Linked DNA regions of Homo sapiens: region 2 is linked to region 1. The links come from fine-mapping of genetic effects on gene expression. A gene starts in region 1. The other region holds a variant in brackets. All regions are shown on one strand. Distances are from middle to middle.

Region 1 (5,179 bases):
GCAACCTCCACCTCCTGGGTTCAAGCAGTTCTCCTGCCTCAGCCTCCCAAGTAGCTGGGATTACAGGCACACGCCACCACCCCTGACTGTTTTGTATTTTCAGTAGAGACGGGGTTTCACAATGTGGGCCAAGCTGGTTTTGAACTCCTGACCTCAAGTAATCCACCTGCTTCGGCCTCCCAAAGTGCTGGGATTACAGGTGTGAGCCACCGCGCCCAGTCTTTTTTTTTTTTTTTTTGAGGCAGAGTTTCACTCTTGTTGCCCAGGCTGGAGTGCAATGGCACAATCTCAGCTCACCACAACCTCTGCCTCCCAGGTTCAAGCGGTTCTCCTGCCTCAGCCTCCCGAGTAGCTGGGATTACAGGCATGCGGCCACCACGCCTGGCTAATTTTGTATTTTTAGTAGAGATGGGGTTTCTCCATGTTGGTCAGGCTGGTCTCGAACTCCCGACCTCAGGTGATCTGCCTGCCTCGGCCTCCCAAAGTGGTGGGATTACAGGAGTGAGCCACTGCGCCCAGCCTCCTTTTCTTTCCCCCCTTTTTTTTTGAGACAGGGTCTCTGTCACCCAAGCTGGAGTGCAGTGGAGGGATTATAGCTCACTCAGCCTCGACCTCCTGGGTTTAAGCGATCCCTCTGCCTCAGCCTCCTGAGTAGGTGGGACTACAGGTGCGGGCCCCGAGGCCCAGCTAATTTTTTTTTTCCCCCAAATTTTTAGTAGAAAGGAGGTCTCTATGCTGCCCAGGCTGGTCTTGAACTCCTGGCCTGAAGCGATCCTCCTGCTTGGATTCCTGAAGTGCGAGATTACAGGTGTGAGCCACCATACCTCAACACTGTATTTTCAACCCGCTCTTCGTTCAATCTCCAAAGGTGGGACATGCGGATATGGAGGGCCGATTGTGTATGGTTGGACCATACACATATAAATGGCTTTAACCTTTACTGACTCTCACAGAACCCTCAGTGCAGTGGCGTGATCTCAGCTCACTGCAAGCTCCACCTCCCGGGTTCACACCATTCTCCTGCCTCAGCCTCCCGAGTAGCTGGGACTACAGGGGCCCGCCACCACGCCCGGCTAATTGTTTTGTATTTTTTTTTAGTAGAGACGGAGTTTCATCGTGTTAGCCAGAATAGTCTCGATCTTCTGACCTCGTGATCCACCCGCCTAGGCCTCCCAAAGTGCTGGGATTACAGGCGTGAACCACCGCACCCGGCCTTTTTATTTTTTTTGAGATGGAGTCTGGCTCTTGGTCCCCAGGCTGGAGTGCAATGGCGGGATCTCGGCTCACTGCAACCTCCGCCTCCCGGGTTCAAGCGATTCTCCTGCCTCAGCCTCCCGAGTAGCTGGGACTACAGGTGCGTGCCACCACGCCCGGCTAAATTTTGTATTTTTAGTAGAGACGGAGTTTCACGGTGTTAGCCAGGATGGTCTCGATCTCCGCCCGCCTCGGCCTCTCAAAGTGCTGAGATTACAGGCGTGAGCCACCACGCCCCGCCCAACTCGTCCTTTCTTTAGACTTTATCCTGTGAGGGTGAATTATGGCCTGTCCCTGGACACACCCGTTCTGCTTTCCCCGCACCAACTGTATCCCAAATAGGGGAAGTAGTCTCTTCAACCTTCAAAAATGGGGCACTGGCTGGGCACGGTGGCTCACGCCTGTAACCCTAGCACTTTGGGAGGCCGAGGCGGGCGGATCACCTGAGGTCAGGAGTTCGAGACCAGCCTGGCCAACAGGGTGAAGCCCTCTCTCTACTAAAAATACAAAAAATAGCCGGGCGTGGTGGCGCGCGATTGTAATCCCAGCTATTCAGGAGGCTGAGGCAGGAGAATCGCTTGAACCCGGGAGGCGGAGGCTGCAGTGAGCCGAGATCGCGTCACTGCACTCCAGCCTGGGCGACAGAGCGAGACTCCATCTCAAAAAAAAAAAAGGGGGGGGGGCGGGGAGCGACATTAGGCCAGCGCGAGTGTGCGGCTCCAGGCCACCAGGGCGGCCGCTCTGGCTCTGCCCTGTTAAAGTGGGGGCAGCGCCCGCTGAAAATTGGCACATCTTGGCTTCCGCAGGTACCAGGGCCTTTAAAAAGGTTCAGCTGGCCGGGCACGGTGGCTCACGCCTATAATCCCAGCACTTTGGGAGGTTGAGGCTGGCAGATCACGAGGTCAAGAGATCAAGACTATCCTGGACAACATGGTGAAACCCCGTCTCTACTAAAAATACAAAAATTAGATGGGCGTGGTGGCGCGCGCCTGCAGTCCCAGCTACCCGGGAGGCTGAGGCAGAGGAATCGCTTGAACCCGGAGGCGGAGGTTGCAGTGAGCCGAGATCGCGCCTCTGCACTCCAGCCTGGGCGACAGAGCATGATTCCGTCTCAAAATAAATAAATAAATAAATAAATAAATAAATTAAAAAAAGGTTGAGTTGAGTCATCGCATGAGGTAAGTCTGTCTCCTCTCCTCACCCATAGGCTGCAGCCACAGGTCCGCACGGAAAACCAGGAGCTCCAAGACTGCCGCACACTCAACATCCAACTCGCGGGGCCGCGGGGACGGCCACAGAAGCCAATCGGCTCCTGCTACATCACAGACCCCGCCCTCAAACCTTGAGGAGCCCGCCCCACGCACTGCTGACCCGGAGCCAAAAGAACTGCGTGGCGTCCGATTCTGGCGTCACTTCCCTTCCCGCGATGGCGGCACAGGGAGCTGCTGCGGCGGTTGCGGCGGGGACTTCAGGGGTCGCGGGGGAGGGCGAGCCCGGGCCCGGGGAGAATGCGGCCGCTGAGGGGACCGCCCCATCCCCGGGCCGCGTCTCTCCGCCGACCCCGGCGCGCGGCGAGCCGGAAGTCACGGTGGAGATCGGAGAAACGTACCTGTGCCGGCGACCGGATAGCACCTGGCGTGAGGGCGGGGCCCAGGGCTGGGGGCGGGGCGGAGCTCAGGGCCAGGGGGTGGGGCGGGGCCTGAGGACAGGCTGTCAGTGAGGCCAAGATCCGGGGGCTGGGAGTGGAGAGGAGGAGGGGCGGGGCTTGAGGAAAGAACGCCGCGTTCCGGGCGCTGAGAAACCAGCCGGGTTGTGGGAGGCTGTTGACCTTGAATTATGCCGAGCGACGCCTACAAACCCACCGCTCAGGCCTTCACCAGGATTGTTCCCATTCCACTTCCTTGCCCAGTCTTAGGCTTCATTCCTTTTTCTTGCTAACGCTGCTTCCTCACCCTCTCTTGTCTCTGCGTCTTCTTTTTCCATTTGTCCCTGGCAGCCATCCGCAGAGAGAAGACCTTCCAGAAACAACAGGCTTCCCTTTCCTAAAGTTCTGCTGCCTTCTCTCATTTTCAAAATTAACCCCAAACTCCTTAGGGTGGCATTCATTTTTGTGACCTCTCCAGTTTCTAGCCAACACTAGGAAAGGGCATTGCCAGGCCAGAACACACTGTGCCCTCTGAAGACCACACGCCCTTTACCACCTGTGCCCTTTGCTTGGAATGCTTTTTCTTCCCTTTCTCCTTGTTTGCCTGCCTAGCTCCTACTCATCCTCTTAGCTTCATATCCTTTGTGATGTCATCCTTGATTCCCCTTCAGGCAAAGTGAGTGGTTCCCTTCTCTATGTTCCTGCAACATTTTTTTCCTACCTCAGTCATAGTTTTTGTAACATTATGTTGTAATTTTCTCTCTCTGTCTTCCTCCATCATACTGGGAACTTCTGGAGGGCAGCACTTCTTGTGATTCATCACTGTGTCCTCTGTACCCGGCAACAACACAGCATAGGGCCAGACACGTAGTGGTTGCCTTACTCATTTATTGAATGCTCTGCTAATTGTCAGGTGCGCTGCTAAAAATTTTGGAGGCATTAATTCACCTTCTAAGGTTGGTACTATTATCCCTTTTGTCTTTTTTTTTTTTTTTTTTTTTGAGACAGGATCTCGCTCTGTCACCCAGGTGGGATTGCCGTGGCACGATGACAGCTCACTGAAGCCTAGACCTTCTAGGCTCAAGTGATCCTCCCACCTCACCCTCTCAGAGTGTTGGGATTACTGGCATGAGCCACTGTGCCCAGCTGTTATCCCTTTTCACAGATGAAGAGACTGAGGCTCAGAAAGATGGAATAACTTGCTCAGTTACACATAGCTAGGAAGTAGGGAGCTGGAATTTTGTGTATTTTTTTTTGTTTGTTTGTTTGAGATGGAATCGCTCTCTGTTGCCAGGCTGGAGTGCAGTGGCGCCATCTTGGCTCACTGCGATCTCTGCCTCCCGGATTCAAGCGATTCTCCTGCCTCAACCTCCTGAGTAGCTGGGACTACAGTTGTGCGCCACCACACCCAGCTAATTTTTGTATTTTTAGTAGAGACGAAGTTTCACCATGTTGGCCAGGATGGTTTTGACCTCTTAACCTCGTGATTCACCCACCTCGGCCTCCCAAAGTGCTGGGATTACAGGCGTGAGCCACGATGCCCAGCCCTGGAATTATACATTAATGTAGGTTATCTTAATCCAGAGCCAGCACTCATGATCCCTGAACAAATGAACAACTGCGGGTATGTGGTAAAATGAGCATTGAATTTAGAGTCAGACTTAAATTCAGTTAAGTATTAGCTCTTACCACTTTTCAAATCTGTGACCCTAGGTAAGCCTCAGTTTTGTTCTGTTTTTTGGGGTTCTTTTTTTTGAGACAGAGTCTTGCTCTTGTCACCCAGGCCACAGTGCAGTGGTACAATCTCGGCTCACTGCAACCTCTGCCTCCCGGGTTCAAGCAATTCTCCTGCCTCAGCCTTGCCTCCCAGGTTCAAGCAATTTTCCTGCCTCAGCCTCCCGAGTAGTTGGGATTACAGGTGTGTGCCACCATGCCTGGCTTTTTTTTTTTTCGTCTTTTTGGTACAGATGGGGTTTTGCCATGTTGACCAGGCTGGTCTCAAACTCCTGGCCTCAAGTGATCTGCCCATCTCGGCCTCCAGAAGTACTGGGATTACAGGTGTGAGCCACACACCCAGCCAGTTATTTTCTCATTCGTAAAATGAGAATAACAGCCTCAACCTGATCCACCTCACAGTTGTGGCAGTGATTGAGTAGAATGGCAGAGGTGGACCAGTGAGGTTAGCTGATGTGTGGCCCTGAACTCTGGAAACTGCTTCTCAGTGTGCAGGATTCCTTTTGTTCCAGCCTTACCTTCCTGATGACCCTAGCCTTTTTCCAT
Region 2 (5,179 bases), 570 kb after region 1:
CTTGGAGGGTCCTATGCCCACGGAGCCTCACTTATTGCTAGCACAGCAGTCTGAGATCAAACTGCAAGGCGGCAGTGAGGCTGGGGGAGGGGCATCCGCCATTGCCGAGGCTTGAGTAGGTAAAGAAAACAGCTGGGAAGCTCGATCTGGGTGGAGCCCACCACAGCTCAAGGAGGCCTTCTTGTCTCTGTAGACTCCACCTCTGGGGGCAGGGCATAGCCAAACAAAAGGCAGCAGAAACCTCTGCAGACTTAAATGCCCCTGTCTGACAGCTTTGAAGAGAGTAGTGGTTCTCCCAGCACGCAGCTTGGATCTGAGAACGGACAGACTGCCTCCTCAAGTGGGTCCCTGACCCCCTAGTAGCCTAACTGGGAGGCACCCCCCAGTAGGGGCAGACTGACACCTCACAAGGCCGGATAATCCTCTGAGACAAAACTTTCAGAGGAACGAATAGGCAGCAACATTTGCTGTTCACCAATATCCGCTGTTCTGCAGCCTCCGCTGCTGATACCCAGGCAAACAGGGTCTGGAGTGGACCTCCAGGAAACTCCAACAGACATGCAGCTGAGGGTCCTGACTGTTAGAAGGAAAACTAACAAACAGGACATCCACACCAAAAACCCATCTGTACATCACCATCGTCAAAGACCAAAGGTAGATAAAACCACAAAGATGGGGAAAAAACAGAGCAGAAAAACTGGAAACTCTAAAAATCAGGGGGCCTCTCCTCTTCCAAAGGAATGCAGCTCCCCACCAGCAATGGAACAAAGCTGGACGGAGAATGACTTTGATGAGAGAAGAAGGCTTCAGATGATCAAACCTGAGCTAAAGGAGGATGTTTGAACCTATGGCAAAGAAGTTAAAAACCTTGAAAAAAATTAGACGAATGGCTGACTAGAATAACCAATGCAGAGAAGTCCTCAAAGGACCTGATGGAGCTGAAAACCATGGCATGAGAACTACGTGATGAATGCACAAGCCTCAGTAGCCAATTCAATCAACTGGAAGAAAGGGTATCAGCGATGGAAGACCAAATGAATGAAATGAAGCGAGAAGAGAAGTTTAGAGAAAAAAGAATAAAAAGAAATGAACAAAGCCTCCAAGAAATATGGGACTATGTGAAAAGACCAAATCTACGTCTGATTGGTGTACCTGAAAGTGAAGGGGAGAACGGAACCAAGTTGGAAAACACTCTGCAGGATATTATCCAGGAGAACTTCCCCAATCTAGCAAGGCAGGCCAACATTCAAATTCAGGAAATATAGAGAATGCCACAAAGATACTCCTCAAGAAGAGCAACTCCAAGACACATAATAGTCAGATTCACCAAAGTTGAAATCAACGAAAAAATGTTAAAGGCAGCCAGAGAGAAAGGTCAGGTTACCCACAAAGGGAAGCCTATCAGACTAACAGCTGATCTCTCAGCAGAAACTCTACAAGCCAGAGGAGAGTGGGGGCCAATATTCAACATTCTTAAAGAAAAGAATTTTCAACCCAGAATTTCATATCCAGCCAAACTAAGCTTCATAAGTGAAGGAGAAATAAAATACTTTACAGACAAGCAAATGCTGAGAGATTTTGTCACCACCAGGCCTGCCCTAAAAGAGCTCCTGAAGGAAGCACTAAACATGGAAAGGAACAACCGGTAGTAGCCACTGCAAAAACATGCCAAATTGTAAAGACCATGGAGGCTAGGAAGAAACTGCATCAACTAACGAGCAATAACTAGCTAACATCATAATGACAGGATCAAATTCACACATAAGAATATTAACCTTCAATGTAAATGGGCTAAATGCTCCAATTAAAAGACACAGACTGGCAAATTGGATAAGGAGTCAAGACCCATCAGTGTGCTGTATTCAGGAAACCCATCTCACGTGCAGAGACACACATAGGCTCAAAATAAAGGGATGGAGGAAGATCTATCAAGCAAACGGAAAACAAAAAAAGGCAGGTGTTGCAATCCTAGTCTCTGATAAAACAGACTTTAAACCAACAAAGATC[C/A]AAAGAGACAAAGAAGGCCATTACATAATGGTAAAGGGATCAATTCAACAAAAAGAGCTTACTATCCTAAACATATATGCACCCAATACAGGAGCACCCAGATTCATAAAGCAAGTCCTTAGAGACCTACAAAGAGACTTAGACTCCCACACAATAATAATGGGAGACTTTAACACCCCACTGTCAACATTAGACAGATCAATGAGACAGAAAATTAACAAGGATATCCAGGAATGGAACTCAGCTCTGCACCAAGCAGACCTAATAGACATCTACAGAACTCTCCACCCCAAATCAACAGAATGTACATTCTTTTCAGCACCATACCACACCTATTCCAAAATTGACCACATAGTTGGAAGTAAAGCACTCCTCAGCAAACATAAAAGATCAGAAATGATAACAAACTGTCTCTCAGACCGCAGTGCAATTAAACTAGAACTCAGGATTAAGAAACTCACTCAAAACCGCTCAATTACATGGAAACTGAACAACATGCTCCTGAATGACTACTGGGTACATAACGAAATTAAGGCAGAAATAAAGATGTTCTTTGAAACCAACGAGAACAAAGACACAACATACCAGAATCTCTGGGACAGATTTAAAACAATGTGTAGAGGGAAATTTATAGCACTAAATGCCCACAAGAGAAAGCAGGAAAGATCTAAAATTGACACCCTAACATCACAATTAAAAGAACTAGGGAAGCAAGAGCAAACACATGCAAAAGCTAGCAGAAGGCAAGAAATAAGTAAAATCAGAGCAGAACTGAAGGAAATAGAGACACAAAAAACCCTTCAAAAAATTAATGAATCCAGGAGCTGATTTTTTGAAAGGATCGACAAAATTGAGAGACCGCTAGCAAGACTAATAAAGAAGAAAAGAGAGAAGAATCAAATAGACACAATAAAAAATGATAAAGGGGATATCACCACCGATCGCACAGAAATACAAACTACCATCAGAGAATACTATAAACACATCTACCCAAGTAAACTAGAAAATCTAGAAGAAATGGATAAATTCCTTGACACCTACACCATCCCAAGACTAAACCAGGAAGAAGTTGAATCTCTGAATAGACCAATAACAGGCTCTGAAATTGAGGCAATAATTAATAGCTTACCAACCAAAAAAGTCCAGGAACAGATGGATTCACAGCCGAATTCTACCAGAGGTACAAGGAGGAGCTGGTACCACTCTTTCTGAAACTATTCCAATCAATAGAAAAAGAGGGAATCCTCCCTAACTCATTTTATGAGGCCAGCATCATCCTGATACCAAAGCATGGCAGAGACACAACAAAAAAAGAGAATTTTAGACCAATATCCCTGATGAACATCGATGCAAAAATCCTCAATAAAATACTGGCAAACCGAATCCAGCAGCACATCAAGAAGCTTATCCACCATGATCAAGTGGGCTTTATCCCTGGGATGCAAGTCTGGTTCAACATATCCAAATCAATAAATGTAATCCAGCATATAAACAGAACCAAAGACAAAAACCACATGATTATCTCAACAGGTGCAGAAAAGGCCTTTGACAAAATTCCACAACGCTTCATGCTAAAAATTCTCAATAAATTAGGTACTGATGGGACATATCTCCAAATAATAGGAGCTGTCTGTGACAAACCCACAGCCAATATCATACTGAAGGGGCAAAAACTGGAAGCATTCCCTTTGAAAACTGGCACAAGACAGGGATGCCCTCTCTCACCACTCCTATTCAACATAGTGGCCAGGGCAATCAGGCAGGAGAAGGAAATAAAGGGTATTCAATTAGGAAAAGAGGAAGTCAAATTGTGCCTGTTTGCAGACGACATGATTGTATATCTAGAAAACCCCATCATCTCAGCCCAAAATCTCCTTAAGCTGATAGGCAACTTCAGCAAAGTCTCGGGATATGAAATCAATGAGCAAAAATCACAGGCATTCTTATACACCAATAACAGACAGAGAGCCAAATCATGAGTGAACTCCCATTCACAATTGCTTCAAAGGGAATGAAATACCTAGGAATCCAACTTACAACGGATGTGAAGGACCTCTTCGAGGAGAACTACAAACCACTGCTCAATGAAATAAAAAAGGATACAAACAAATGGAAGAACATTCCATGCTCATGGGTAGGAAGAATCAATGTCGTGAAAATGGCCATAGTGCCCAAGGTAATTTGTAGATTCAATGCCATCCCCATCAAGCTACCAATGACTTTCTTCACAGAATTGGAAAAAACTACTGTAAAGTTCACATGGAACCAAAAAAGAGCTCGCATTGCCAAGTCAATCCTAAACCAAAAGAACAAAGCTGGAGGCATCAAGCTACCTGACTTCAAACTATACTTACTACAAGCCTACAGTAACCAAAACAGCATGGTACTGGTACCAAAACAGAGATATAGACCAATGGAACAGAACAGAGCCCTCAGAAATAATGCCGCATATCTACAACTATCTGATCTTTGACAAACCTGAGAAAAAAAAGCAATGGGGAAAGGATTCCCTATTTAATAAATGGTGCTGGGAAAACTGGCTAACCGTATGTAGATAGTTGAAACTGGATCCCTTCCTTACACCTTATACAAAAATTAATTCAAGAAGGATTAAAAACTTAAATGTTAGACCTAAAACCATAAAAACCCTAGAAGAAAACCTAGGCAATACCATTCAGGACATAGGCATGGGCGAGGACTTCATGTCTAAAACACCAAAAGCAATGGCAACAAAAGCCAAAATTGATAAATGGGATCTAATTAAACTAAAGAGCTTCTGCACAGCAAAAGAAACTACCATCAGAGTGAGCAGGCAACCTACGGAATGGGAGAAAATTTTTGCAACCTACTCATCTGACCAAGGACTAATATCCAGAATCTACAATGAACTCAAACAAATTTACAAGAAAAAAAAAAACCCCATCGAAAAGTGGGCGAAGGACATGAACAGACACTTCTCAAAAGAAGACATTTATGCAGCCAAAAGACACATGAAAAGATGCTCATCATCACTGGCCATCAGAGAAATGCAAATCAAAACCACAATGAGATACCATCTCACACCAGTTAGAATGGCAATCATTAAAAAGTCAGGAAACAACAGGTGCTGGAGAGGATGTGGAGAAATAGGAACACTTTTACACTGTTGGTGGGACTGTAAACTAGTTCAACC

What was found. PIP is the estimated chance that this variant, and not a neighbour inherited with it, causes the effect.
Region 2: its variant is the best candidate, but not a certain one, in a credible set for the expression of KAT8 in nucleus accumbens (GTEx, PIP 0.79).

What each region holds. Positions count from the first base shown.
Region 1 is chr16:31,115,002-31,120,180 of GRCh38, forward strand. KAT8 (lysine acetyltransferase 8) reads left to right here and starts at 2,663. Exons shown (of 11, transcript NM_032188.3): 1 at 2,663-2,891. The coding sequence starts at 2,681. It also overlaps a transcript of BCKDK not described here. RefSeq lists silencers at 2,481-2,707, 2,607-2,956 and an enhancer at 3,127-3,246.
Region 2 is chr16:31,687,558-31,692,736 of GRCh38, forward strand. No RefSeq gene overlaps it. Among named protein-coding and RNA genes, the nearest start is that of KRABD5, 23 kb to the right of the region's middle. The variant C/A (reference allele first, on the strand shown) is at 2,008.